2 separate regions of the Homo sapiens genome follow, and region 2 is linked to region 1. Evidence: fine-mapped expression QTL. A gene starts in region 1. The other region holds a variant in brackets. All regions are shown on one strand. Distances are between the middles of the regions.

Region 1 (17,462 bases):
TGAGTCTACAGTGAGCCCTGTTCACAACCACTGCAAACTCCAGCCTAGGCAAGAGTGAGACCCTGACTCGAAAAAAAAAAAAAAAAAAAGAGAGAGAAGGAAAAAAAACAACAAAATAATCAAGATACAAAAGATGTTGGAAGTAAAAAGAACATTTACTGTGCAATTATTGTGTGCAAAACACCTATGCTTTAGAAATTATCTAAATTATCACTCAACAGAAAGGAAAGGAGCTTCTGAAAAATTAAGTAACTTGATCAAGATTTCACAACTACTGACAGGACCTACAGAGAAATTCATACCTGATTCCAAAACACTATCTAAAAATATATGTCCCCTCCCAAAAATAATGTTTAAAAACATGCTCCACTTATTCAAAACCTCCGCTGCTTAAAACCTCAGGAAGCAGTTGCTATCACGGTAAAAATCTGATCAGTTCAATCCATTTTATTTTTTTGAGACAGCATCTTGCTATATTGCCCAGGCTGGACTTGAACTCCTGGTCTCAAGAGATCCTTCTGCCTCAGCCTCCTAAGTACCTGGGATTACAAGCACGCACTACTACTGTGCCTAGCTTCAGTTTTATTTTTTAATTTCTATTCTAACTCAGGAATAAAACACATTCCTTTGCTAAAATATGGAAGAACAATTATTTTCTAGTACAATAATTGGAAAAATGCCAAAATAGGGAAGAACAAAATGATTTTCTAGTACAATGAATTAACTGAAAAAATATGAACAAGATCTCAGGAGTCAGAGTGAGAATGCTATTCGTGAGGGCACAGAAACCAGCCCCATCTGAATAATGTCAAGGATGAGGAGAAAAATACAAAATGTGGCCAATTTAGACTCGAAAGAGGAATTTGACTTAATAACCAAGAAACACCACACGTTTTGCAAAATTGAAGGAATAAAGGGACAAAGATTCTTCCCTGAGTTTTCAACAAATTGAAATTAATACCTAGAGGAAGAATAGACGTTACCTGAAATTATGGAATGTAAAAGTAATATATACCTATGATTATTTTATGTTCCAATTTTTTAAATAATGAAAATATTACAGTATGAAAATTGTCCATAAGTACTGGAAAACTTTATATCAAGAGCAAAATAAGACTCAAATTCATCAGTAGTTAGCTTTCCGATTATTTTTTTCCTCCTGTGTTATGATGTATATTTTGGCCAACCGATCTGCTTTAAGTTAGCACTTTCCCTCTTAGGTAGGTAAAAAGAAAAGAGAGCAATCTACTGCTAGTAACTTGGATTAAGAGGCTTGATAACAAAGTATACTGAAATTATTGGAAATGCTTTCAAATTAATGTAATTTTATCAATAACTACCTCTTAATTGGAGCCAATAATTGAGATCTAAAAATATAGAAATCACAGTTATTGTCCTTTAGACACAAGTTCTGAGAAAGTCATGAACTTGAAAAACTTCAACCCATTATACACTTCAAAATTAGTGATTCAAAAAAAAGAAAAAAATTTAGTGATTCAAATGAGTTATTAATTACCATTCCATTTACAAGAAGATATATATGTCACTGTTGCCTTTAAACAGTTTTCAGCTTCCAATATACAGGATCATCTCAGTTTATGAAGCAAAGGTGTTTTTGCAGTTTTTTAAAGTATATATATTGTCATACCTTTGCGGTTAAAAAGAAATTGTTATTTAAAGGACTACTGTGGAACACATACTTCTGAAATACAAATAATTATTCTGTCTTAGCAGTAAGTAGATGTCAAACTGTATCAGGCAGTAAAATAGAATAGTGAGGAATGTTTCCTAAAAGGTAGTCTTGAGCTTAATTTAATCTGGGGGTGGGGGGGAATGAACATTTATTAAGTGTCCACTATGTTCCAAGCCCCAGAAATAGAACTAGTAACAACAGCCACCATTTCCTCAGCTCTTACGCTTGCTACAAGGCACTGTACCAATACTTCCTATGGATTCACTCATTTAATTCTCCTCTTAACCTATGAGGTTAATAAAAGCGTATTCCAAAAACGTGAGATAACTGGAATATCTATTTAAGATTACAAGAGTTAGAATCAATAAGACTAGCAAGGCTTAGAAAGCCAAAAAATACAGCTTGAAGCATAACAGAAGCTGAGAGCAAATAAGTACCATGGAGCTGGTTTTGCTAGTAGACAGCCAATGTGCAGCCTTCCAGAAATTTAGTTATAACCCAGACAACTAAATTAAATCACCACAGTTAATAATTAGCAGGAAAAGAAATTACAGGTATTTAAGAATTTACATTTCAGTTATTTCAGTAGTTAACATTGGAACAATTTCAGGGATTTTTTTCTGTTCAAGTTAAGTTTGGGTCAGGATCCAGATGTATGGAATTTGGAAAAACCTTCCAAGAGGATTCTATTATGTATCCCTGGCTAGGAACCACTGATCTCCTCACTTTGTAAGTAACCTACAGCCCAGAAATGTTAAATAACTTGTTCAAACTAAAAAAAAAGTATCAGAGCATTATCTAGAATCTAGCTCTCTCAACTCACAGAATATTCTGCAAGTACGGAAAATGTTTAGAAAATAAGTGAAGTTTAGAGGTTATATGCCTGCAAGAAGAGCATTACTATTTTATACTCTAACACAGTCATGCATTGCTTAATGTCATCAGATGATTTCATCATTGTGTGAACATCAGAGCGTACTTACATAAACCTAGATGGTATAGCCTACTATACACCCAGGGTACATGGGATATAGCCTACTGCTTTCATGCTACAAACCCGTACAATGAGAATACTGCAGGCAATTGCAACATAATGGTATGTATTTTTGTATCTAAATGTATCTAAACATAAAAAAAAACAGTAAGAATACAGTGTTATCTTATGGGACTACTGTGTATAGGCAGTCCATCATTTCAGTGTTATGTGAAATATCATTATGCAGAATGACTGTATTTTGTTATCTTTATACAGATGCTCCTCAACTTAACAATAGGGTTACATTCCAATAAACCTATCTTTAATTGAAAATATCATAAATCAGCCAGGTGCGGTAGCTTACACCTGTAATCCCAGTACTTTGGCAGGCTGAAGCGAGTGGATTGCTCGACCCCAGGAGACAGAGACCAGCCTGGGCAACACGGTGAAACCCCAACTCTATCAAAAAAAATACAAAAATTAGCCTGGCATGGTGGCATGTGCCTATAGTCCCAGCTACTCAGAAGGCTGAGGTGGGAGGATCGCCTGAGCCAGGAGGCAGAGGCTGCAGTGAGCTGAGATCGTGCCATTGTACTCCAGCTTGTATGACAGAGCTAGACCCTGTCTCCAAAAAAAGAGAAGAAATGCATTTAACACACCTAACCTACCTAACATCATAGTTTAGCCTAGCCTACCTTAAACACTTACATTAGACTACAGTTGAGTAAATTATCTGGTAATACAGTACACTGCAGAGTATCAGATCACAAGAAAGTATCATACCACTTCCTACTGCATGCCATAGCTTTTGTGCCAACAAGAAGTCAACAAATTGTTAAGTCAAACCATCACAAGTTGGGGACCCTCTGTATATCCTACTGAATAAAAACTCTGCAATCTGAAATAGTAACTAGTTAGTTTCTGTCACTGGCTGCCTGAAGTTTCTATTCATACTTCAAAACCAAGTACAAATGTGACTCTCCTCTTTACCATCTCTCCCAGATTATAATCCTTAATTCCCTTCTCAAGACTCCGACAATCCTACTTACACACTGCATTTTAGTTAAATATCTATACATCTCTCTCCCCACTAAGACACTAATTTCTTGGCACTAGAGACTTCATCTTAATTTACCTCTATTTCCCTCATGCCAGGGAACACATTCAATAAACGAAGAGTAAATGAATAAATTAAAAGGGAAAACCTCAATATTTGAGAGTAACTGAAAGAATAGCTCATATGATGGCTTATAAAACAGTTTTAAAGATGCAATTTTATTACTATCTAAAATAGTCAACTATGCAATAACAAAGCATTTTCCAGTATGGGTTCTTCTACTTAAAACAAGAGAATCATTTCAAACTGGCACATATACAACCCTACTTACAAACTAACAATTCAGTAGCTTATAAAGTTATAAAGATGGGCAGACAGTGAATTTTTGAAGTCACTCATTTATGTTATGTTTGAGTTTTTGACAATAAACATATATTCCTCTGGTAATCATTAAAAAATTTTAAAGTTACTTAACAATTCCATAAAGGAAACAAAAGATGGATTATTTATCATTGCTACTTAAAAATTAAAAATAATTATTTTCCTAAGCATCTCTGGAACACGCTTCTGCATCTGATTGACCAAAAGAGAAAATAACACCCTAAGTGGAAACAAATACAATACTGAAAGGGAAGACTAAAACCAGTTCCCCTCCCTTTACCCTGCACTGCTCCCTTCACAAACATCTTTTCTTCCCCCACTAAATAAGCAGATACTGGCTAAAGACTTTCAATTTTACAATGCTAGTCCTGTTAAACTTTTCCTTAGAAAATAAATTTATCCAAAATAATGAGAAAAGGATAGGGAAAAAAAGAAAAATATTCCTCTAATGTTTTTAAAGAAGTAAAACTGCATTTAAACCACCACAATACTCCACTTTAAAAAGTTTGTAATAGTTGTATGGGTTTTTTTTTTTTTCTCATTCTCTGACCTTTACAGTACAGGCAGAAATTTAACAGGAGGAAAAGACGCAAGTATTAACTAAGATCTTTTTAATACAGAGATTAATCTCATGTTGGTAATGGTGGAGGAAAAGAAAGGAGAAGGAAAAAAAGAAGAGAGTAAACCACACACACAAAAATTTAACTGAGCAAAATGTTTTCTTTGGGTATTTGGCAGTTTTGTTGAACAGTTATACAATTTCAGAAAAACAATGTTGCCCAAAAGAGATGCTCAGATTCCTAAATACTATTTTCACATATTACCATCCTCTACCTTCAGAAGCAATTCTGTGAAGTATGTAGGGCAGGCATTATGCTCCCTACATTACAGAAAACTAAACTGAGTTCAGTTATTGTTTAAAATGAAACATAATTTCTACTCTACTACTTCACCATAAAATCATAAAGATAGAGCTGGAATAGACTTTAGTGTTCCTTTTACAGTTAATTTTCCCCATTTTACAGATGAGGAAAAGTGAAGCTCAAGAAAGTCAAATTACTAACCAATGTTAGAGAACTCTCAGTGACAGAATGAAGATTGGAATGCAAGTCTCTTAACTTCTGGCCCAGTGCTCTTAATCCCACCACCACACAAGTTGCCATGCTGGAACCTTTAAAAATGTTACAAATCTCTACATGAGTGAGTCACATTATTAGGTCTGCAAAAGGGAAACCATATATTTAAAAACAAAAAAAAAGGAATTAAGCAACAAATAAATTTAAATGTAAAGCTACCAACAACCTTCAAGTCTTTTCCCTAAAATCCGCTTTTATGTGTTCCTACATCCTCCGTCAAACTACAAGTTCCCTAAAATTCCCATAAATTGTAAATATTAAGATCTCAAAATTTTTGACTGATGAAATTAAAAAAAAAAAACATTCTTCAGTAATCATGCTCCAACTTCCCTAATAAGCGCCAAAGCATATTACTGACAATAATAAGTTATTTTACTTAACTATTTTTCATTGTATATGTTCACTAAAATATCATTTCCACTGTATACTTCCAATTGAAACAGAGTAATTAGATCTGGTAGACAATCTAATGCACATGCATTAATGAAAATGTGATAATTGATTGGCAAACATGTATTATGAGGTGGAAGGTTTTTTTTTTAAGACTAGAAGAGGTTGAGATTGAAAAGAGTATGTGGTTTATAATGCAGTAAGAATGCAGACAGCATGAACCTAATAAACACATGGTGAACAGATCTTACTCACTTCTTTGGCAAGATATTTGAACAAATGTTTCAATTCCTAGCCAGCTGGGAAGATATGCCAGACTCACAGACAATTCTATAGGCTGAAAGATCCAAAATCTTATCTGATTCATTTACATGCAAAATTACACAAAGGGAGCAAACCCAAGGGTATTATTATTAAAACTAGAGCACACAGGTTTTGAGAGAGAGGAGGGAAGTAATTCATTCATTTCAACCTGGCCTAACTGAAGGCCTCGAGTATCAGATAAGGCCCTAAATACTCTAGTATTTCAAAAATTACACTGTCCCTGCCCAGAGAAAATTCACACTCAAGCAAGGTAAGCAATGTATTTCTTAAGAAACTAAAAATATAAGGCAAGTGCTAAAATATGACGTTTCAATAAATCAAAATATTTGACATGGATATAATAATGATCACATTCAATGCATTTTAACTTTCACAAGTTCAATAATACAAGAGGCTGAAGCTTCCCAAAACAGGAAGTGAAAAAAACAGTGCTTTTGAGAAAAGGCAATGAACTGGAATTATTAGAGTTCAAATGCCCAGAATTTCATTTAATCTTATTTATGAAGGTGGGATATTAAAGTTTGATTGCATTTATCCTACAAAAATGTTTAATAAATGCTTAGAAAAGGTATTTTGCCCAAATACCCAAATCACTTTTGATGTTACTCTCACTTCCTCTTTTAGAAACCATCATAACCATTTCCTTTAAACCACAATACCACAGGTCTAGTAACTTTTATAATATTTGACTTGTTCATTTTTGGACAAAATTCATATAGGAATCAATTTCCAAGTTTTTTAAGCAGCACAATCTCCCCGAACAGTTCAGGTCAATGCAACCTCTAAGTAATACTATTTAAAACTGAATTATTCCTAACCTATATAAATTTATAACCTAGGCTCCTTGGTAAATGCAGAGGGGCTTCTTTGTCATGACACTGAGCTCCTGCCACATAAAAGGTAACAAACTGAGTAAGCATGTTGCAGTTACTCTCCAGATAGCACTGGGTTTAGAGTAATAAAGCCTTGCAATTAGGTGAGCAACCAGACTTTGTCCTTATCCAAAATTTATCATCATTAAACCAGGACACTCTTTAGAATTAGTGTCTACATCAAATTGTAAAAAATAAATCAATTTTACACTCAAACGCTTGGAAATGAATTTCCAAAGAAAAAAAAAAAAACCTTTCTTCAGAAGCCCTCTCAACCTACAATCTATTGCTATGATTAAACTAAACGGTAACATTCACGATATATTAAAAAGCCAACAAATAGTTATGAAGGTATGACATCAAAGACACATTGGAAACTCGATGGATCTAAATTTTCCAAATATCTCTTTTTCTCTTTATCAAATTGTTTAAAACTTACCAACCTTGCCTTAAGGGGAGAGATTTTGTTGTTTTGTCCTACGATAATGAATGTAATTATTTGTTCTATCTTTACATGGACTTTTCTAAACTTCCAGTGGTCTTCCACTCCTTACTGTACTGAGGACATGTAAAAGCCTTTAAATGGGCCTATTAGCTATAGTTGCTCAAATTATCAGACTATGCTATAAATCAGCAGCAATTGCAACATTTTTACGGTTTTTATTTTGTACAGACACCGAACTTTAAGAAATGGTATTGGAAAATCTAACATGAGGAGGAGTACAGGGGAAAGAGTAGAAGGTTGTTATTCCAGTTCTAGTGACTCACAGCCTAGAAGTATTTCAGAAAATTGGTTCCACCCTCACTTCCCCCTCCTCTCCACCTTCAAAATGAAATAATCCCAAATCGTCAACACACTCTCAATGGCTTTTTATTTAGCAATCTAAAATAAAGTGGCAAAGTGGAGGGGATACGGGATTCATCCAATCAGCCCTTCTCTACCCACATTCCCACACCAAAAAATGGGGATGTGGGGTGTAATCCCTGTTCACTGCTGCCATCTCCGTAAGAATATGGAACACTCAAGTTTTCCTACCCACCTAGAATTTCGCCCACCCACCACCCTCCCTTTCCTATGGGCCCCATCATGGGGGCGGGGGCGCCGAGGAGGGGACAGCTCCCGGCTCCCAGCGGCGCCCCCACCCCGTGCGAGGCCCAGCGCCCGATCCCGCCGCCGGGAGCCGGGAAATGGCTTCTCTGCCTTCGGCCGGCCGGCGAACCACAGGGAGAGGCGCCCGGGACTCCGCATTAGGCCGCGGCGCATCCAGGCGACCCCGGGCCGGGCCTCGGGCGGCGACGCCGAGATTTCTACACCCGGCGCCTCCTGCCGCCCCCACCCCACGGCCTCCCTTGCCCTTCATCCCTCCCGGGCCCGCCCGCCTCCGCCGCGGCCTCCCCGGCCCGTGCGCACCTTCTTGATGTTGTAGAGGCGGGTGAGCATGCCGACGCCCCGGTCGTTGAGGATGGTGAGCTTCTCCGCCAGCTTCTGCTGACTGGGCTGCAGCACTGAGCGCGACATGGTGGTGCTGGTGCCGCCGCCGCCGCCGGCCGCCTCGCGCCCAGTCACGGGCCCGCGGCCTTCGCAGCAGCCTCTCTCGGGCCTCCTCCCCTCCCGCCCGCGACCTCCGCCTTAGGAGAGCGCGCCCATGGCCCTCGCGCCCCAATCCCGCGCCGGCGACAGAGCGAGCCGCGGCGGACTCCTCGGAGCCCCTTCTCCCGCAGCAGCCCGCGCCCCGGCAGCCTCCTGCCTTCCGCCCGCCGCCCTTCCGCCCCCACCCCCGGCGCTCTCCGCCCCAGCCCCCAACGAGCCGCCTTCCCCGGCTGCTCCACTAGGTGTGGCGGCGGCGGCGGCGGCGGCGGCGTCTCCGGCGGCTGAGAACGAGGCCGCTTCCCGCAGCCCCGGACGGGCCCTCGGTCACCTGATCGGCAGCGCCGGCGCCCCCGCGAGGCCGGACGGGGAACTGCGGCCGACGGGCCCTCGGCATGGCCTCGCCGCCGCCGCTCTGGCCCTGGCCCTGGCCCGGACCGCCCACTACGCCTGATGCCGGGATGGGAGTCCCAAGCGGGGACTGAGTGGGGTCGCGTTGTGTGCTCTTTCCACTTCGCCCCACACCCCACTCCTTCAAGTTCCCAAAAGTTGCTTTTCCGCACCACCCTTCTAAAGAAACCGGCAGAAACTCTGCTGGGAGGCGGGGTGTTTTCCAGGCGAGTTTCGCTTAAGAGTGGGCTGGTGGCTCCAAGCGCTTTTTCCTCCCACTGCTTGACAGGCGCTCGCCGCAGAACACAGCAGATGTTGTGCTCCGCGAGGTGGGGATCGCCTCTGCCAGCCTCCCCAGCCCATCCTCAGTCTCCCCGCCTGGAACCAGTTTGTGAGAGAGGAGGTCGGAAGTGAGGGTAACTCAAGTCCTTGAGATAATCACAATCTAGACTTTGTCGGCGAGGAGCACCCATCCGGAGGAGACGCAGTAGGTCCTGGCATGTGGAAGGCAAAAAATAAATGTTTGTTCAATGCCTAAAGGAACCGCTCCCATTTTTTTACAGCCTCCACCCTAAATCCCACTTCTTCTTGGAAACATTCTTCTTTGCCATCTCATTTTTCCTGATCAATTTCTTCTTAGCGACACTCCAAGGCTACTCCCTTGTCAAATGTATTAGACATGATTCCAAAAGTGAACTAACTGAGGACTTACGTAATTGAGGTGAGAAACTTCAGCCAAGAGGACTCAGGCCTCTAATATTTTTGGCTTTGCCTTTTCTCGATATGTTAATTTTTTATATTATATTCATTAATTTTAAGTCAGTAACAAAATGTCCCGCCACATTCAATAAGACATTCTAAGAGTAATAAGCCATCACTGGATTTATCAAAACTCTTTAAGAAAAGGAAATTGTAATGAATAGCTTTAAAATATTTTTTAAAGCTACTATATCTACTATTCGTAAAGAAATCTTCATTTTAATATTCCAACAAGAAAGAAGGAGTGGACTGAATGGATTTAATCTAAGGGGCATTTAAAAGAGTCCTGTTCCCACCAAAAGAAGTCATAATCATACCTGCCAGTGTGCCTGAAATTCTATATACAAAGCTGCAGTACCTTGAATGAATGCTTTGTACCTAGAGAGTCTTAAGAATACAAACACTTCAGAGAGATCATCTGTCGAGCTATTACTAGTCATTAACTGGTCAAGGAATTTAATTTATCTGGTTACTTCTCAGCCTGATAGTTAACATTTTAATTTAGAGGAGGCAAGGTTGTGGGGCCTGGAATAGTAAGGGCAGACCTGAGAAGGGGAGGCTGCGAGGAGGGGTTTGGGGTAGCCAGATAAGAAAATTTAAAAATGTTGAACATTGGGGAAATATGTGCTCCTTTAGGGAGACTACAAATAACTAAGTCTAGACGCAGAATTACAGAGTGCTACCAATAAAAGATTGTCTCATTTTCTAGTTTTTAAAAACTGCTGTATAGGGAGAACAAGAAAATGGCACTGTATTATAAATTTGAACACAACTCTTACTCCCCAAGAAAAACTATCATGTTGCCATATAAACTTGAATACTAGTAGCTGCTTATAACTCAGGAAGTACCCAATAGGAGAACGCTGTAGATAGTAGTCTCATTATTCAATATTTATTGTCACTAATTCATAGACATACTGGCCCTAGACTGTAATGAAATGTATATATTTGCGTAAAAGAGATTAGATGTAGATGAATTACAATTTTTGTCTTTCTCTACATTTTGCATTAAAAAGAACAAGTGTACGGGAATTTTTCTTAAACTTTTTAACTTTTTTGTAGAGACAGGGTCTCCCTATGTTGTCCAGGCTGGTCTTCAACTGCTAGGCTCAAGCTCCATCACACCTGTAACCCCCACACTTTGGGAGGCCAAGGCAAGAGGATTGTTTGAGTCCTGAAGTTCAAGACAAGCCTTGGCAACATAGGGAGACCCCCATATCTACAAAAATTTAAAAATTAGCTGGGGGTGGTGGCGTGCCTGTGGTCCCAACTACTCTGGAGGTTGAGGTGGGAGGATCACTTGAGCCCGGAAGGCAGAGGCTGCAGTGAGCTGTGATCACACCCCTGTACTCCAGTCTGAGTGACAGAGCAAGACCCTGTCTTAAAAAGAAAGAAAGAAAGAGAGAGAGAGGAAGGAAGGAAGGAAGGAAGCAAGCAAGCAAAGGAGGGAGGGAGGGAAGGAGGAGGAGAGGGAGGAGGGGAAGGGAGGGGAGAAAGGAAAGAAAGAAGGAAGGGAGGGAGAGAGGAAGGAAAGGAAGGAAGGAGAGATGAAAGAAAGAAAGAGAGAAATTGAGGCCAGGCACGCTGGCTCACTCCTGTAATCCCAGCACTTTGGGAAGCCAAGGTGGATGGCTCACTTGAGGTCAGGAGTTTGAGACCAGCCTGGTCAACATGGTGAAACCCATCTCTACTAAAAATACAGAAATTAGCCGGGCATGGTGATGCGTGCCTGTAATCCCAGCTACTTGGGAGGCTGAAGCAGGACAATCACTTGAACCCGGGAGGAGGAGGTTGCAGTGAGCCCCGTGATTGCACCACTGCACTCCAGCCTGGGTGACAGAGTGAGACTCTGTCTCAAAAAAAAAAAAAAAAAAAAAAAAGGAAAAGTACATCCATCATCCAGCCTCCCTTGCAGCTTATGTTCTGACCAGTAAGATATAAGCTGTCAAGAACCTTCCTAAAGGGACTGCTGCTGCTCTCCATTTGCCAGTTCTTCCTCACTTCCTTCATTCTGCCACACCCAACAAGGATGCAATGACCACTATCTTGAACCAGGAAGACAACAGCCACTCAGTAAGGATGACAAAACATAAAAATGGAAGGTGTATGTGGGCTTTTTAGAACACAACAGCCATGTCAAACTTGGCCTGTCTAGACCTGGTTTTGTACGAAAGAGAAATAAACTTCTAGCTTTTTTATTTGTTTTTTTTTTTATTTACTTACAGCCAAACGTGATTCTCAATAATCCTCAAACGTGATCCTCAATAATAAGTTTCTGTGGCCAACTTTATAATATCTCTAATAGGAATAAAATAAGGGAGGATAACTAGATTTAATAGTTATGGTTTTTGCACTGTGTCAGATGTTGTTACAATTTGAGCTACATTTTCTCATTTACTTCTTTCAAAAACCTTTAGAGATATTATCATCTTTAATTTTACAGATGAGAAAACTGAAATGCAGACAGTTTTTTTTTTTAATTGCCAAAGATCACACCCATAGAAAATGGTAAAGCTGATATTGGATCCCTTATCGGTCTGACTCCAAAGTTGGTGCACTACTGTGACAAGACAGTTGGATGGCACTACATTTTTCATGCATCCAGTGAACATGATTCTATAGTTTCCTCTAGAGTCCTATAACCCTGCTCAAACCTTTATAAACAGTTCCTTCACTTTCTTCAATTCACAGTTAAGAGTCTGCCATATTTTTTCCTGACCGATACATCAGCTTTTTTAGATGGCTTTCTTTAGCTTTGCTTTCTCCAGAAACTAGCATGAGAATTATTTCTGTAATATCTTTTGCTAATCATAAAGAATGTTTATGCGTTCTTTTTTTAAAATCACTTAGTTTACCCAACCCAGTGTTGCTTCTCTATATAAGGCAAGAAGTGAGAAAAATTGATTAAGGGTATCTCTATAGGTTCTTAGGATAAAGCCCTTTGATTAGGAGGTCTGCCATCAAAGGCAGTGTTCCACTTGATCTTAAAGACAAATATAATGTTTTTCCTCCCATCAAACTTCAGTGTTCCACTTGATCTTAAAGACAAATATAATGTTTTTCCTCCCATTAAACTTCTAACCAGGTATTACTAAGTATGACTAGAAATGTATGAACAAATTTCTCTTTGAAATAGCCTGGGAATTGAGAAGTAGACATAGTAATTTTGTCTGTCCTTCAACCCTTCCTTTGGGAAGCCACCACCTTCTGACAAAATTGAATGCAGAAAGAAAAAGGGCCCAAGCTGTGGGAAGAGTCAGACATAAGTGAATAACAAATTAATAGAGCTTTTCAAGGAAGTGCCATTCTAAAAAATTGCATTTGGTGAGACCATAATGCAGAGAAACCAACCCTGGGTGAACAACAGTGGAAAAGGACAATAGATTTCCCTGTGGTTTAACAGTAATTCATGTCCTGTTCTTCTGCTTGGCAAAGACCACAAGGTATAACATTTATTCCCCAAAAAATTATTAAGAAAGAGAATGAGGAAAAGACAGGGCAACAGTGAGGAAAAGACAGGGCAACAGTATCCATAGTAAATGAAGGAAGGAGTTAAGACTTAGCCAGAGATTGCAACTCAGTAGAGCAGAAGAGTAACTGAGACCAGAATAAAGACACATGAGGTATCTCCAGTAATCAGTAGAAGAGATGCCAGAAATACAGCTGATCTGAAAAGTTAAAAAAATGAAATAAAATAAAGAATTAATTACAGCCTTGATCTTGACCACTCACATCCAATTAGATTCATCTTATAGTATGCCTAATCTTTGGTAATATAACTCACACATGTTTATTTGCACCTGCTCTATAAAACTATAGATTTAGCTTTCCTTTTTTGTTGTTTTTGCTTTTTGTTTTTTTGTTTTAGATATTTATTAGGCTAGACTTATGCATGAATAGTATATGATGGAATATATATCAGTGAATACAAATATTGGTTGATCATTTTAGGTTTATAATTTTTTAACGTTAAAATGCTACATGGAAAATAGGCAATATCAATGGTAGAACAAAATGAGTTAGAATACAGGGTTAGCATTTTGATGATACCAACTTTCAGCTGAACAAAAATAATCTATTTACATTTTTACATTTTTACATTTACATCAAATGTAAAAACTCCAGAGATGAATATTCACTCCAGAGGTGAATATTCTTTCAAAAATTTGAAAATATATTGAATCTATTGAACTGGACCTCCAAGGGGAGGCCTAGCATACAAATTTGAAGTTATCAGAATTTGGGTATTATTTGTAGCCATGGGAATAAATTGAGATACTTTTTGGAGAGTATTTTTTTAAAAAGGAAAATAGTGTGTAATAGAAAGAAAGAAACAAAGAAAGAAAGAAAAAGAAAGAAAGAGAAAGAAAAGAAAGAAAAAAACGAAAGAAAAGAAAGAAAGAGAAAGAAAGAAAGAAAGAAAAAGAAAGAAAGAAAGGAAAGGAAAGGAAAAAGGAAGACTTATGAGGTGTTAGGCCTGTGAGCCCAAGCCTGCACGTATTCATCCAGATGGCCTGAAGCAAGTGAAGAATCACAAAAGAAGTGAAAATGGCAGATTCGGCCGGGCGTGGTGGCTCACACCTGTAATCCCAGCGCTTTGGGAGGCCGAGGCGGGTGGATCATCTAAGGTTGGGAGTTTGAGACCAGCCTGACCAGCATGGTGAAACCCTGTCTCTACTAAAAATACAAAAATTAGCTGGGCGTGGTGGTGCATGCCTGTAATACCAGCTACTCGGGAGGCTGAGGCAGGAGAATCGCTAGAACCCAGGAGGTGGAGGTTGCAGTGAGCCCAGATCGTGCCATTGCACTCCAGCCTGGGCAACAAGAGCGAAACTCCATCTCAAAAAAAAAAAAAAAAAAAAAGAAAATGGCAGATTCCTGCCTTAACTGATGACATTACCTTGTGAAATTCCTTCTCCTGGCTCATCCTGGCTCAAAAGCTCACCCACTGAGCACCTTGTGACGCCCACCCCTGCCATCCAGAGAAAATCCCCTTTGACTGTAATTTTCTGCTACCTACCCAAATCCTATAAAACGGCCCCACCCCTATTTCCCTTCACTGACTCTCTTTTCGGATTCAGCCCGCCTGCACCTAGGTGATTAAAAAGCTTTATGGCTCACACAAAGCCTGTTTGGTGGTCTCTTCACATGGATGTGCATGAAATTTGGTGCTATGACTCGGATCAGGGGACTTCCCTTGGGAGATCAATCCCCTGTCCTCCTGCTCTTTGCTCCGTGAGAAAGATCCACCTATGACCTCTGGTCCTCAGACCAACCAGCCCAAGGAACATCTCACCAATTTTAAATCAGGTAAGCCACCACTCTTTACTCTCTTCTCCAACCTCTCTCACTATCCCTCAACCTCTTTCTCCTTTCTATCTTGGCACCATCCTTCAATCTCTCCCTTCTCTTAATTTCAGTTCCTTTCCTTTTCTGGCAGAGACGGAGAAGACACGTTTTATCTGTCAACCCAAAACTCCGGTGCCGGTCATAGACTCGGGAAGACAGTCTTCCCTTGGTGTTTAATCACTGTGGGGACGCCTGCTTGATTATTCACCCACGTTTCAGAGGTGTCTGATCACCATGAGGATGCCCACCATGATCCTTCGCCCTTAGTGGCAAGCACCACTTTTTGGGGGGCAAGCACCCCCCACCCCTTCTCTCCGTGCCTCTACCCTCTCTTTTCTCTCCACTTTCCTGGGGGGCAAGCACCCCCCACCCCTTCTCCACTTTCCTGGGTGGCAAGCACTCCCCACCCCTTCTCTCTGTGTCTTTACCCTCTCTTTTCTCTGGACTTGCCTCCTTCACTACAGGCAATCTTCCACCCTCCATTCCTCCTTCTTCTCCCTTAGCCTGTGTTCTCAAGAACTTAAAACCTCTTCAACTCACCCCTGACCTAAAACCTAAACACCTTATTTTCTTCTGCAATGCCACTTAACCCCAATACAAACTTGACAATGGTTCCAAATAGCCAGAAAACAGTACTTTTGATTTTTCCATCCTACAAGATCTAGATAATTCTTGTCGTAAAATGGGCAAATGGTCTGAGATGCCTGATGTCCAGGCATTCTTTTACACATCAGTCCCTCCCTAGTCTCTGTTCCCAATGCAACTCATCCCAAATCTTCCTTCTTTCCCTCCCACCTGTCCCCTCAGTCCCAACCCCAAGTGTTGCTGAGTCTTTTCAATCTTCCTTTTTTATGGACCCATCTGACCTCTCCCCTCCTCCCCAGGCTGCTCCTTGCCAGGCTGGGCCAGGTCCCAATTCTTCCTCAGCCTCTGCTCTCCCACCCTATAATCCTTTTTTCACTTCCCTTCCTCACACCCAGTCCGGCTTACAGTTTCATTCCGCGACTAGCCCTCCCCCACCTGCCCAATGATTTCTTCTTAAAGAGGTGGCTGGAGCTAAAGGCGTAGTCAAGGTTAATGCTCTCCCAAATCAGTTAGCGTTTAGGCTCTTTTTCATCAAATATGAAAAACCCAGCCCAGTTCATGGCCCATTTGGCAGCAACCCTGAGATGCTTTACAGCCCTAGACCCAGAAGGCTATCTTATTCTCAATATGCATTTTATCACCCAGTCAGCTCCTGACATTAAAAAAAAAAAAAGTTCCAAAAATTAGATTCCGGCCCTCAAACGCCACAACACGACTTAATTAACCTAGCCTTCAAGGTGTACAATAATAGAGTAGAAACAGCCAAGTAGCAATGTATTTCTGAGTTGCCATTCCTTATGTCCACTGTGAGAGAAACCCCAGCCACATCTCCAGCACACAAGAACTTCAAAATGCCTAACTTGCAGAAGTCAAGCATTCCTACAGGACCTTCTCCATCAGGATCTTGCTTCAAGTGCCAGAAATCTGGCCACTGGGCCAAGGAATGCCCACAGCCTGGGATTCCTCCTAAGCCTCGTCCCATCTGTGCAGGACTCCACTGGAAATTGGACTGTTCAGCTTACCTGGCAGCCACTCCCAGACCCCCTGGAACTCTGGCCCAAGGCTCTCTGAGTGACTCCTTCCCAGATCTTATCAGCTTAGCGTCTGAAGACTGATGCTGCCCAATTGCCTCAGAAGCTTCCTGGACCATCATAGACACTTTGGGTAACTCTTACAGTGGAGGTTAAGTCCGTCCCCTTCTTAATCAATACAGAGGCTAGCCACTCCACATTACCTTCTTTTCAAGGGCCTGTTTCCCTTGCCTCCATAACTGTTGTGGGTATTGATGGCCAGGCTTCTAAACCTTTTAAAACTCCCCAACTCTGGTGCCAACTTGGACAATATTCTTTTATGCACTCCTTTTTAGTTATCCCCACCTGCCTAGTTCCCTTATTAGGCTGAGACATTTTAACTAAATTATCTGCTTCCCTGACTATTCCTAGGCTACAGCTACATCTCATTGCCACCCTTTTCCCCAGTTCAAAGCATCCTTCACATCCTCCCCTTGCATCTCCCTACCTTAATCCACAAGTATAGGACACCTCTACTCCCTCCTTGGTGACCGATCATGCACCCCTTACCATCCCATTAAAACCTAATCACCCTTACCCCCACTCAATGCCAATATTCCATTCCACAGCATGCTTTAAAAGGATTAAAAGCCCGTTATCACTCGCCTGTTACAGCATGGTCTTTTAAAGCCTATAAACTCTCCTTACAATTCCCCCATTTTACCTGTCCAAAAATCGGACAAGTCTTACAGGTTAGTTCAGTATCTGCGCCTTATCAACCAAATTGTTTTGCCTATCCACCCCGTGGTGCCAAACCCATATACTCTCCTATCCTTAATATCTCCCTCCACAACCCGTTATTCTGTTCTGGATGTCAAACATGCTTTCTTTACTATTCCTTTGCACCGTTCATCCCAGCCTCTCTTCGCTTTCACTTGGACTGACCCTGACA
Region 2 (14,164 bases), 23 kb after region 1:
ACAAACTCCTATTTCAAAGTAATAACTTCCAAAAATGACGTTTTCACCATTTCACATTAAGTACACACCATAATCGTTATACTTCTAAGCCTTGATTATGTGCAAATGTTAAGGACATTTTTTTTCTTATTATAAAAATATATACTATGTTAAAGTATTATAAACTCATTATAAGATTATTTTCCCCAGTAAGACATTGCTGAAATCTAAATGTTTACAATAAGTCAGTTGTTCACTGATGTTTAAATTCAACTTTGTAGTCCCACTTAAATTAAAATCCAGGCCAAGTGCAGTGGCTCACACCTGCAATCCCAACTCTTTGTGAGGCAGAGGCAGAAGGATCACATGAGGCCAGGGGTTCGAGACCAGCTTGGGCAACATAACAAGATCCCCTCTCTACAAAAGAATAATAACAATAATTTAAAAAATTTAAATTCTGACCAGGTACAGTGGCTCACACCTGTAATGCCAGCACTTTGGGAGGTCGAGTTGGGCAGATTGCCTGAGCTCAGGAGTTTGAGACCATCCTGGGCAACATGGTGAAAGATTGTCTCTATTAAAAATACAAAAGAAAAAATTAGCTGGGCGTGGTGGCATGTGCCCATGGTCCCAGCTACCTGGGAGGCTGAGGTGGGAGAATAGCTTCAGCCTGGGAGGTAGGGACTGCAGTGAGCTGAGATCGCACCACTGCACTTCACCCTAGGTGACAAAGTGAGACCCTGTCTGAAAAAAAAAAAAAAAAAAAGCCAGTGTTACTTAAGTACAGTCATACAAACTAAGCTGCTACTATAAAATCATGTTTTTCTTTAAAACTGTGAACATACACTGCCCCACCTGGATTGTTTGCACATTAAAGTTTTACCATTTCATAGATTATTTTTAATTGCTTCAACTCATTACTCTTTGCACAAACCTTTAGAATCAGAGTTTATTCACATTTTCTACAACTACTTTTTACATTTCTTATATTCCCAATGGTCTTCATTTGTGCTATATTTGAAATGAAAGGATGAACAATTTACTTTTAGTTTGTGAAGAGAGGAAACCCACATTTCCTAATTAGTGTCCAATTTATTTATATAGTTGATTCTACATGTAAAATATTAGGAACACATTAAAGCAAACTTTAGCATTACATATGTATGTATACTTTCTTATGTCACATTTTAATTATAGAATTGTTTTACTTGAGCAGAAAACATTTGTAAGTTGATTTAAATAAAAATATGTTATCTAATATATTAGCCAAAAGTGCTAGTAGTTCTGTTATATAATACATTGGCTAAAAATGCACCTGCTACTACATTACAGACTATGGGACTTCCAAACATCAGAAGAGAACTTTGGATGTGCAATTCTGGAAATAACAGAATTAGCTTAGAGCACCCTCCTGTTTTAAAAGACAGTGAAAGACTTAAAGCCTGTGAATTGAATCAGAATAAAGGAATGAAGTGAGCCACTCATCTTTATTCATTTTCCCCATGGAGTCAAAGAAGAAATAAAAACAAAGCTGAAATCATTTTTTCTTTATGCTGGTGTTGGCCAAATTAATTTTTGGTTACAAGGTTTCTAATTAGCTTTTTTTTTTTTTTTTTTTTTTTTTTGACAGAGTCTTGCTCTGTCACCAAGCTGGAGGGCAGTGGCGCGATCTCAGCTCACTGCAATCTCCATCTCCCGGGTTCAAACAATTCCCCTGCCTCAGCCTCCCAAGTAGCTGGGACTATAGGCATGTGCCACCACTCGCAGCTAATTTTTTGTATTTTTAGTAGAGACAGGGTTTCACCATGTTGGCCAGGATGGTCTCGAGATCTCTTGACCTCGTGATCCACCTGCCTCGGCCTCCCAAAGTGCTGGGATTACAGGCGTGAGCCACTGCACCTGGCCTCTAATTAGCTTTGAGTAATGGATCCCCCTGCTGAAGCTGGTCATCCTATCCATAAAATATATACAAATATTGTAGTACAATTTTAAATAGTTTATGGTTTCGTTAAGACCATATAAAGCTCCAGAGACCCTAGATTTGAAACCACTATGCATTGTAATGAGTCTATCAAAAATGGCATAACAGGAGCGATTGTATACCCTGGTAATCATGTGCTAAGCATCCGGGTTTAACCTGGCATAAATGTTAAAAAGAAAACTTTCTATGCCGGGGGCGGTGGCTCATGCCTGTAATGCCAGCACTTTGGGAGGCTGAGGCGGGTGGATCACCCGAGGTCAGGAGTTTGAGACCAGCCTGGCCAACATGGTAAAACCATGTCTCTACTAAAAATACAAAAATTAGCTGGGCATGGTAGCGGGCACCAGTAATCCAGCTACTCAGGAGGCTGAGACATGAGGATTGCTTGAACCTGGGAGGTGGAGGTTGCAGGGAGCAGAGATCACGCCACTGCACTCCACCCAGGGAGACAGAGTGAGACTCCATCTCAAAACAAACAAACAAAAAAACCTAAAGCTTTTTAGAATGTCATCTGGATCTGTAAAAGAGCCTCTTTCCTAATGAGTTCAATGCATTACCCTATGGCAATCTTTCCATGACAGTAATAGGGTAGCCTCTGTTATCAACATTTTATCAGGACTAAATATTCCACTGTAGATCATTTACTCAAGTTCTCTCTTTATCTGCCTCCCTCTGGCTGCCAAGACCTTTGGCACCTCCAACAGAGGGTGGGAAGGAGAACTGAAAACATGAGACTCAAATTGTTTTGTTTTGCTTTCATTTGAACACCTTAACTAAACAGTTTTGTATAAAAGAAGAAATGGAAACTGCTGATTACCAAAAAGTCTTTTAATGGTCTGCAAGTTATCATTTGTCTACATATCCCTTTTTCTTATTGTTATAAGTAATAAAGGGTTGGATGTTTCCTTAATGAAATGTACAGTGTTTTAAAGAAATCCTGTGGCTTCTGCACATTACATAAGCCATAGTTAGTCTGCCTCAGAATGATTGCAGAAATATTGTAAATTTAGTCTCAGAAACTGGCTGCTAATGTAGGCCCAGCCAGCTTTTCAGCTTTCAAGACTGCTCTGTGTAAAATAGCACATTTGGAAATCTGTTGCTGCTACACCCTATTCATACCATACCCTGTTCCTAAGAAGTAAAACTTAACATGAAGAAGAAGCATAAGATATGTGAAAGGGTCACAAAAATGAAAGAAGCAACAGGTTCTAAAAATATTTGGTATTGGTTCAGCGTTCAAATACCTAGACATTAATGTCTTTGAGTGTTGACAATATTCTCTCGTTGGCAAAATACCTCTTCTCTTGATTTCAGTGCTAGCTGGCAAACTCCCATTCCACGGATGTACAACTGGCATCTGTTTCATACTGCTTTTGTTTTTGTGAGAAAAAAGTTAATATAAGGTAAATATCACCACCACCACCACCACCATCATTATTTAATGTTAAATATCAGCTTGACACAAAGCAATGGACTTGACTACAATTATCAGAGTTAGTTAAACTGCCTCAGATTTTTTGTGGAATGAGGTCATGTGAAAATATAATCAAACACTGTACTAGAAATAAGGAATTTTTTTCCTTCTCTTCATGGGAGACAGATTAGCTTAATTCATGTGAAATTGTTTCTTTTTCTCTTATGTCCTTTTCATTTCAAGAGGTATTCCTACCTTTAGTGGGAAGGGTTTTTTTTTTTTTTAATTTTGATTTGTTTTGTTTTGTTTTGAGACGGAGGCTGCCTCTGTCTCCCAGGCTGGAGTGCAGTGGCACGATCTGTGCTCACTGCAACCTCCACCTCCTGGTTTCGAACAATTCTCCTGCTGCAGCTTCCCAACTAGCTGGGACTACAGGCACCTGCACCACCCTGCCTGGCTAATTTTTGTATTTTTAATAGGGGCGGGTTTGAGATGGCCAGGCTGGTCTCAAACTCCTGACCTCAGGTGAGCTGCCCACCTCGGCCTCCCAAAGTGCTGAGATTGCAGGCATGAGCCATTGCATCTGGGCTTTTAAAAAACGTTTTATGTGAAATCTCGTCTCTACTAAAAATACAAAAAATTAGCCGGGCGTGGTGGCAGGTGCCTGTAGTCCCAGCTACTCGGGAGGCTGAGGCAGGAGAATGGCGTGAACCCGGGAGGCAGAACTTGCAGTCAAAAACACAAACAAACAAAAAAAACATTTTTATTACAGAGAATTTCAAACATGAAAAGAGTAAATAGAGGAGTATATTAACTTCCCATGTAATGATCACCCAGCTTTGACACTTAATGACATTTTTCCAAACCTGAATGTAAAGGTTTTGTCCGTAATCTAAACCAGAACTCTTATTTATGCTAAAATAA[T/C]ACATTAGAATAAAAAATAATATAATAGAAACTCTTTTTGTTTTCTTTTTTTTTTGTTTTGAGACAGAATCTCGCTCTGTCCTCCAAATTGGGGTGCAGTGGTGTGATCTCAGCTCACTGCAACCTCCACTTGCCAGGTTCAAGAGATGCTAGTGCCTCAGCTTCCAGAGTAGCTGGGACTACAAACGCACAGCACCACTCCCAGCACAATTTTTTTTTTGTTTTTTGATACGAAGTCTTGCTCTGTCGCCCTGGTTGGAGTGCAGTGGCTAGAGTGCAGTGGTGAGATCTCGGCTCACTGCAACCTCCGCCTCCCGGGTTAAAGCGATTTCCCTGCCTCAGCCTCCTGAGCAGCTGGGATTACAGGTGCACGCCACCATGCCCAGCTAATTTTTGTATTTTTAGTAAAGATGTGGTTTCACCATGTTGGTCAGGCTGGTCTCGAACTCCTGACCTTGTGATCTGCCTGCCTCGGTCTCCCAAAGTGCTGAGATTACAGGCGTGAGCCACCACGCCCGGCCAATTTTTTTTTTTTTTTTTTTTTTTAAAGACAGGGCCTTGCTATGTTGCCCAGTCTGGAATACACCAGCTATTCACAGGCTCACTGTAGCCTTGAATTCCTAGCCAGAAGCAGTCCTCCCTCCTCAGTCTCCCAAATAGTTGGGACTACAGGTGTTGAAAGCTAGACATTTTCACATTTCTTAATGGTAATTTTTATCAACATTTTAAAAAGAAGAGATGGTAAGAACAAATATCAAAGTGACACTCTTGGCAATAGCCAAACCAAGGGGTAAAACATGTCTATCAAACTGAACTTAAGCTAACAGCATGTGATATCATAATTATATGAGTAGTGCTTCCTAAATCCTGGTTTCTTCGAGAAGTAAGAATGTACCCAATGCTTTCATTTTGCTGAGTCACCATGTGGAAAGAGAGAAAAATCAACCACTTACTGAATGAATCACTTTGTTTTTCTTCTAAGTAATTTGCTCTTCTTTAAGAACTGGCAGGCATGAAGCTACCAGGACTTGTGCTACCTGTCTTGTCAACAGTAATACTCACCCAGGGATTACAGAAATGCTTTTAATAATAACATAGATCAGACACAATCTAAATTCTCATAGTAGGAAAGAGTTACAGGAGTTATATAGTAAACCTACACCAAGAAATTTCGTAGGAATTATATGCCAATGAAAGAAAATGTAGGTAGGCAGGTCTTAGTAATGTATATCTGCCTCTTTAAAGTGTTCTAGGGTCATAACCAAAAAGATTATGTAATTCAGACAAATGGGCCTTCTGAGAGGTATATCCGTTCTTGGTCTGACAAGGGATCAGGACAAGACAGGCATAGTGATCTCAAGTCCCACTTGGCCTGTGGACAATGACTGATTGGGTTGGACATTTGAGGTACAAAATCCAGACTAATTTATGGGAACCAAAATAAAGTTGCACTTGAGCTGTTTTACATCTTCTGTGGCACTTTGATGGAAACCATGCACTGAAGAGCCCATTGCCTAAACCATCCCATTCATAGGCATTCTATGGTGCTGCTCTACTGTTTTAAAGTCCCCAACATTCTTTGCTTTAGCCAAAAAATGTAGTGGCACTGACTGCAGAGGGTGGCTTTTTAAATATACTTACGTCCAAAAGGTAGATGCAAATGCTCCAGACCCCCCTTTCCCTTTGTTAGCACGGATTAGGTCAGTAGGCAGCCTTGTATTGAGGAGGAAGGTGTAAGAGGAGTTAGTCTGTTTAGGGGTGGGTCTGGTGGGGTCTGGGGTTGGGAAAAGAATAACAGCGATAGTCTTGGTCTGGCCAGAATGTGCTGTAAGAAGTTCCCTATGCCCTGATAAGAGAAGGAGGAAGTTCTCTGTAAGGTCCTCTGAGCTGGTCGCACCATGGTCGAGCCATCGTGACATTCCCCCGCCCTTGTGATAATGTACTTTGTGATATTCCCCAACCTTGTGAATGTACTTTGTAACATTCTTCCCCACGCTTGTGACAATACACACTCACCGCCCTTGAGAATGTACTTTGTAACATCCATCCCCCGCCCGCAAATAATTGCTCCTGACTCCACCGCCTATCCCAAACCTATAAGAATCAACGATAATCCCACCACCCTTCGCTGATTCCTTTCTCAAACTCAGCCCACTTACACCCAAGTGAATAAACAGCCTTGTTGCTCACACTAAGCCTGCTCAGGTGGTCTCTTACACGGACAGGCATAACATTCTCCTTCCCTGAAGAGAGCAGAAGGAGAGAACTTATCAGCATTCAGGAATGCTGTGAGAGAAGATGTGGCACTCCAAAGGCAGGAAACCATTTCAAAGAAATGTGCTCAGAGTTGGGCGGTCAATAAGGATTGCTTTCAAAGGAAAAAGATGGTGTCACAATTCTGCCAAAGCCTGCTCTGAAAAAAGGTTTACCCTTATAAAAATAAAGGGGCTGGGCGTGGTGGCTCACGCCTGTAATCCCAGTGCTTTGGGAGGCTGAGGTGGGCAGATTATGAGGTCAGGAGATCAAGACCATCCTGGCCAACATGGTGAAACCCTGTCTTTACTAATAATACAACACATTAGCCGGGTGTGGTGGTGCACACCTGTAGTCCCAGCTACTCAGGAGGCTGAGGCAGGGGAATCACTTGAACCTGGGAGGCAGAGATTGCAGTGAGCTGAGATAGCGCCACTGCACTCCAGCCTGGAGACAGAGCAAGACTCCGTCTCAAAATAATTAATAATAATAATAATAATAATAATAATAAAATAAAATTTTTTAAAAAAAGGGCCTATCTTCTCCCTATCCCTCTAAATCTTGGAACATAGATAATTTAATGGCACTGGGAGTTGCAGTGTTAGGGGGAGTGGTAGAGCTACCAAACCCAAGTAGTCAGCTTTCCATTTCCCAGGAGCTGAAGAGGGCTGGGTAGAATCAGCTCTGCTTTTTACCATTCTCTTCATTGACATCTATTCTGCCCCTGTTCATTTGAGGTTCACAAAGGCTTTCCTGCTTTCTTAGAGGAGTCTGACATCAAAACCCCAGCAGAGCCAATGTGGAGGGGTATGTGAAGGATGAGCATCTTTAAAATTACAGAAAGTGGTTTTCCCCATTGTGAGAACACTTTTCAATCTATTCTCACTGGGAAAATTAAGATATTCTAAACTTTAAGAAAATGCTGTCAACTTTAATAGGAAAAAAAGACTAAATTATTTGGAATTTATGGGAATGCAATCCAGTTGTGATGGTAAATAGTTTTATTTGTTTTTTTTTTTTTTTTTTTTTTTTTTTTTTTTTTTTTTTTTTTTGAGATGAAGTCCCACTCTTTTCACCCGGGCTGGAGTGCAATGGAGCGATCTCGGTTCACTGCCACGTCTGCCTCCCGGGTTTAAGCGATTCTCCTGCCTCAGCCTCCTGAGTAGCTAGGATTACAGGCATGTGCCACCACACACAACTAATTCTGTATTTTTAGTAGAGACGGGGGATTTTCACCATGTTGGCCAGGCTGGTCTCGAACTCCTGGCCTCAGTCGATCCACCGACCTCGGCCTCCCAAAGTGCTGGGATTACAGGCGTGAGCCACCATGCCCGGCCCGGTAAATAGTTTTAAAAGTCTCTTTTATTTAACCTAACAAGGGGCAAAGATTGCCTAACTTAAGTTTCAGTTGTTTTTATTTCCCCTGCTTCCCTTCTCATAATGGTTTGAGTGGAGAAATCATAAAATCATAAGTTTAGACCTAAAAAAGTCCTTGGAGATAATTTCTTCCCCTTCATTTTACAGATAAGAAATCTCAGGCCTGACAAGGTGGCTCACACCTATAATCTCAATGCTTTGGGAGGCCAAGATAAAAGGATCATAAGCCCAGGAGTTGGAGACCAGACTGGGCAACATAGTAACACCCCCATCTCTAAAAATTAAAAAAAAAAAAGAAATTTGCCAGGCACAGTCGTGTGCACCTATAGTCCCAGTTATTTAGGAGGCTGAGGCAGGAGAATCCCTTGAGCCTGGGAATTCAAGGTTGCTATGAGCTATGATCTTGCCACTGCACTCCAGCCTGGGTGACAGTGAGACCCTGTCTCAGAAAAAAAGAAAAAAAAGAAAAGAAATCTCAGAACAGATAAATAGCTAAATGTAGGAAGTCAAAAAGTTGCAGGAGAGACATTAAGTATAGATAATTCATAAAATAAAAATCAGATCCACGAAATCCTGAGTTTGTTGTAGAAAATGTCATTACACTTAACAATATTTTCTCTGCAGATCTGGATATGTGTTTGTTGTCTCTATTTTTGTTGGTTAAAGAATGGATCAAGGTTTTACAAAATTGTTTTTTGCTGCCACAGTGGAAATCTACAAAAATGGGTAATAGGCTATTTTGGGACCATTGTTCAGAAGTGCATTTATCTTAGAAATGGTTACCATGGAGATGAGCACACGTTGTGTGACTCTACAGCTTGCAAGTTAGAGTCATCCATGCTAAGACATAAATAGCTATATTATTACACACAGATGCACAAGAGCTCGTGAACACATGCACAATAAAGTTATGTTGTTCCTCTTTTTGTAAAATAATAATAAAATTCCATGTAGTGCTGACATTTGGTGGTGGAAGGGCCTGCACATCTTAGACATTTTAAAATGTAATATTGTATGATGATATAAAAACCACTTTTTAAAAACACCATAAAGTAGTCTGAATCAAGTTTAAAGAGTAACAACATACTTAACAAGTAAAATAAATGAGAGCATGTTTCTTAGACATCACTGCTTCTTAAAGTAGAAATACAAAAAAAGTAAAAAACAAACTCAGAAAATATTACAAAAAGTTCTTGAGTTATTTTTCCCAAAGCACTCAATATTGGGCATAGGTATTTACCTAGTTTCTCTCTCCCTCTCTGGCTAATTAAGTACTTTCTCTTTTTTTCTTTCTTTCTTTCCCTCTTTCTTTCTTTCTTTCTTTCTTTCTTTCTTTCTTTCTTTCTTTTTCTTCCTTCCTTCCTTCCTTCCTTCCTTCCCTTCCCCTTCCTTCCCTCCTTCCTTCCTTCTTTCTTTTGTTTCCCTTTTTTTTTTTTTTTTTTTTTTTTTTTTTGAGGCAGAGTCTCACTCTGTCTCCCAGGCTGGAGTGCAGTGGCGCGATCTTGGCTCACTGCAACCTCCCCGCTTCCCGGGTTCAAATGATTCTCCTGCCTCAGCCTCCCAAGTAGCTGGGACTACAGGTGCTCCCCACCATGCCCCGCTAATTTTTTGTATTTTTACGGGGTTTCACCCTGTTAGCCACCAGGATGGTCTCAATCACCTGACCTCATGATCCACCCGCCTCGGCCTCCCAAAGTGCTGGGATTACAGGCATGAACCACTGCGCCTGGCCTTGTTTCCTTTTTCCACTTGGACTTTTCTTTTTCTTCAGGAATTTTTTACCCTCTGTGTCCCCAGGCAGCTGCATCACCCTAGAGAGGTCAAAATGGTCACAGCACCATGGAATGCTCACTGGCAGACCGAAAAAGCACCCGCTGGATGCTGAGGGAGTCTGCAAAGAAAATAAAGGTTTTAACATTTCAGTGATCACTTGCCGAGATCACAAAGGCATATATTCTGATAAAGTTAATTTGCTTTAATATTTTTACCTTTTTCTTTACATTTTATAATGGATGTTTTCAAATTTTCAAACAAAAAATGAAAGGATAGTAAAATTAAGCCCTCTCCCAGGTATCCGTCACCCAGCTTCAATACTTATCAACATATGGCTTATTCTGTTTGGTTTACAACCCTCCTTCCCCCATCGTTTTAAATCAAATGCAAAACATCATAATAACAATTCTTTTGAATAATTGAACTAGTCAATAAGAAATCTTTTTTCCTCCACAATTTGGAGTTTTTTCTATTTTCCTTGGAAACTTCAAAGGCTTCATTGTGTATAGGGTGCAACGCAGGGTACTGAATTCAGTAGTGTAAACAATAATAACTATAATAATAATAGTAATAATAATAATGCTTTCTCCATCATGCAAGTGATTAAATACACCAATGATTTAGCCACATTTAGCTTTGAAGCTACATGCCATCATTCATCTATTTCTTTTCTTGTGTGAAAAGAAATCTTTTCTCATGCACCAGAGTTAATTTTTTCAAGACTAATTACTGCATATGTATTTAAACACATCTTTAAAGTAAGCCATGTACTTTGACTTGTTTTATAGAATCACAAGAAATATACATAAAATAAACAAAATACATGTTTTCTGCTTTTTTAAGACAGTGATTTTAACACATCTGATTAGTAAACAAACAACCTATAATAGCTAAAGAGTACACAAAAAGTACAACTATAAAAAAACTAATCATCTTTCACAATCTTTTCATTAAAAATAGCCATGTATGGGCGAAGTGGGTTGGCTCACACCTGTAATCCCAGAGCTCTGGGAGGCCGAGGTGGGCAGATCACTTGAGGCTGGGAGTTCGAGACCATAATGGCCAACATGATGAAACCCTGCCCTGTCTCTACTAAAAATACAAAAATTAGCCCGGGGTGGTGTCACGCGCCTGTAATCCCAGCTACTCAGGAGCTCAGGAGACTGAGACGGGAGAATCGCTTGAACTCGGGAGGCGGAGGTTGCAGTGAGCAGAGATGCACAACTGCACTCCAGCCTGGGTGACAGAGTGAGACTCTGCCTCAAAAAAAAAAAAAGTCACATATGATTTCTCAGTATTTGCTGCCATTTTCAAACTTAGGCATCATGTAGTTTTAGAGATAAAATCAACAAAATACAAAACGTAGGTCAGCAAAAAAGCTGATTATATAACCTTGATTTGCTTTCATTTTAGTACTCTTATCACACTGCCTTCTAGAATTTCAGTACTGAATAACTTGTGAAGTTTTTCCCCCAAATTTGTCCATCTAATATGGCTTATTCTCAAATGAAATATTATTTATCAATGTATTAATAATTAGATCCACGCCTTTAAAAATACATATAAAGTTTTAAAATCTTAATCTTTTAAATCTGTCTCAGGAAGTAAAAGATTTTTAATGTAGAATGAGAGACCCCTCAGAAATCAGAAAAAACATCTTTTCACTCTACATAGCCTCATCCAGGTTAATTAATATGTCTTTAAATAACCATTGTTTGAAAAGAGTTAGCGTTTCACCTTTATGTATAGCTCTAGTGCTTCTAGCATTTAACTATTCATCCTTATAAAATATCTACATAAATAGCTCCAGGAAAATATACAGGTTTTTAGGAACATTTCCAAGAAAAAAGTTACAGGGGACTCCTGACTCAATTGAAAAAGAAAGGATTCAAGATTAAAAAAGAGACATGTCATATTGTATTGGACCAGTTGATTATTCTAAATAATACTGACACTACAATAAATTTTGAGGGACAGTGCTATAGCTTTCTAATTCATCAATTACAAATCCAGAAATAGGGATGCTTTCCTTAGTTGATGTATAATCCAAACATCTTCTCAGCTTGTTGGATACTATTCTGTTGCTGTCTCTACCAGTACATAAGACAATGCATTCAATAACTTCATTACCCACCATATCCTTTTAGTTGACATAAAAGTACTTCTTTTAAACTTCAAAACATGTTCCCTATTATTTTTAATATCCTAGGATTTTATTAACTTCGTTCACATTATCCATATTATTCCTGATTCTTTAAAGTAATTTGATCATATTTCTTCCCAGCTTTTCATTATTTTAAATTAAAAAGTCATATATGTTTTATATAAATAAGTATTATTAAAAATAGCATTTTAAAGAAGGAGGATAGATTTCTAGAAGAAGGTAGGGAGGTCAACATTATCTGAAAATGACACTCTGGAAATGAATTTTCTGTCATGGACACTCTAGCAGTTTCCAGACACAACCTCCAGCTGCCTCTAGTTATATGCCATCGTATCTTTTCAAGCTCTTTAATTTGGCAGCTCTTCTACCACCCTATTGAAGCTGTTCTATGAAAAATGATCAGCTGATCTCATTGTATCATGTCAATTTAACTTGTCTTCATTCTCTGTATTCTGACTTCTCTGTAACTTTCTACAACATGGAATAACTTTTTCTTTTTTTTGAAATTCTATTTACCTTTGAATACATGGTCCAGGCTTTCACTGGTTTCTATAACTTCTCTTTATCTGTTTTTTTTTCATGTTTCATTTGTTTTCAAGACTCCAAATTTTGTTCCCTAAACCATCGTCCTTTCCTGGGCTTTCTGGAAACTGGCTCCTTTGAGAAGTTCATATCTTCTCATTCAACCATCATCTTTATGTGAATGACCTCAACTCAACTCAGATATCCTGGCTTTATCACTCACTTATTCATCCATCCATGAAATATTTATTGAAGGCTTACAATGTGGCAAGCACTAAATAGATAAGTTGGGCTCCTCAGCACCCTAGAGAAACACAGCTCATAGTCCTTATAACACTAGTGTCCAGATTTCCCTAGCTAGAAATTGTCAAGTCATTTTTGATGAGCCTTTTTCTTTAATCCCCAAATAAATTTTTTAAAATAAGTTCTCATTTATTTTATTAAAAATTGGCTTTTGTTTGGGCCTGGTGACTCAGGCCTGTAATCCCAGCATTTTGGGAGGCTGAGGCAGGAGGATCACTTGAGGCTAGGAGTTAGAGACTAGCAAGGGGAAACACTGTAAGATCTTGTCTTTACAAAAAATTTTTAAAATTGTATTTTTTTTTGTTTGTTTTTTGAGACGGAATCTTGCTCGGTCGCCCAGGCTGGAGTGCAGGGGCACAATCTCGGCTCACTGCAAGCTCTGCCTCCTGGGTTCACGCTATTCTCCTGCCTCAGCCACCCAGGTAGCTGGGACTACAGGCACGCACCACCATGCCTGGCTAATTTTTTATATTTTTAGTAGAGACAGGGTTTCACCATGTTAGCCAGGATGGTCTTGATCTCCTGACCTCGTGATCCACCCGCCTCGGCCTCCCAAAGTGCTGGGATTACAGGCTTGAGCCACTGTGCCTGGCCAAAAATTGTGTTTTTTAAAAGTACTTTATAGGTCATCATTCTTATGGGCTTCAACATGATTCAAGTTGTCAAATCCCTTGTACCTGCATTACTATCTTACTTTCCTGATTGGTCCTCTAACTTATTTTCTTCAGCTTGTATAATATTTTTTATCATGTTATTCTTAATGTTTATAAAACACTATAAGCCCAAAAATCTCCATCTGGTTTTTGAAGCTTACATAATCTAGATCGACCATGCTGTGTAAATTTTATTTCCAACATGCACCCTTCTTAAAGCTCAGATGTTTCCCCACAAGTATGTGTTATTTTTAACTTCTATACTTTGCTAATACCTGTGACTTTTTTTTTTCTGGGTTGATTTTTTTCCTCTTCCAAATGGAATTGTAAACACTTGAATGTCAGAATCTATTTTTAATTGTTGAATTGTATCAATTCTAAAATGCACATTTCTTACATTATTACTTCCTGAAAATGAGGGTGTATCTTTTAATCAATAATGTCTTAAACATTTTAATACAGTTCAATTCGTAATGTTTATTTATTTTTTTTTTCATGGTACATCAAATAGTAGTGTCTCATAATCAATGGCATTTTAAATTCAATGAAATGCCTTTTTTTTTTGCACCTTGATAGTCTTTGATGGAGTATTTAGCTCATTGCAGATGCTCCAGAAATGTTTGTTGGTTGATTCTATGGTTTTAAAGCATAAGTGGCTGCAATAAAGATAACCTGCATGTCTAGCATATACCTAATTTGAAAATTCAATTTTAACATGATTTGTTTTTTGAAGTGAAGTAGAAAAATAATTAGATAAATATTGATGGCAGCAATGGCCCATGTGGAGCAGCAGCTGTAAAGATGCTGGCTGCAGGAGGGAT

Direction of the effects. Alleles are on the strand shown, and positions count from the first base shown. SD is a standard deviation of normalised expression in the study named.
With allele C in place of T in region 2, the expression in thyroid of the gene that starts at base 8,706 in region 1 is higher (small effect, 0.28 SD a copy in GTEx).

The links. PIP is the estimated chance that this variant, and not a neighbour inherited with it, causes the effect.
Region 2: its variant is the best candidate, but not a certain one, in a credible set for the expression of NCKAP1 in thyroid (GTEx, PIP 0.63).

The regions. Positions count from the first base shown.
Region 1 is chr2:183,029,752-183,047,213 of GRCh38, forward strand. It overlaps NCKAP1 (NCK associated protein 1), which reads right to left and starts at 8,706. Exons shown (of 31, transcript NM_013436.5): 1 at 8,241-8,706. The coding sequence starts at 8,348. RefSeq lists silencers at 8,126-8,245, 8,306-8,895, 8,628-9,279.
Region 2 is chr2:183,054,524-183,068,687 of GRCh38, forward strand. It overlaps LOC124900540 (small nucleolar RNA SNORA77), which reads right to left and starts at 9,823; the gene lies at 9,712-9,823. The variant T/C (reference allele first, on the strand shown) is at 4,299.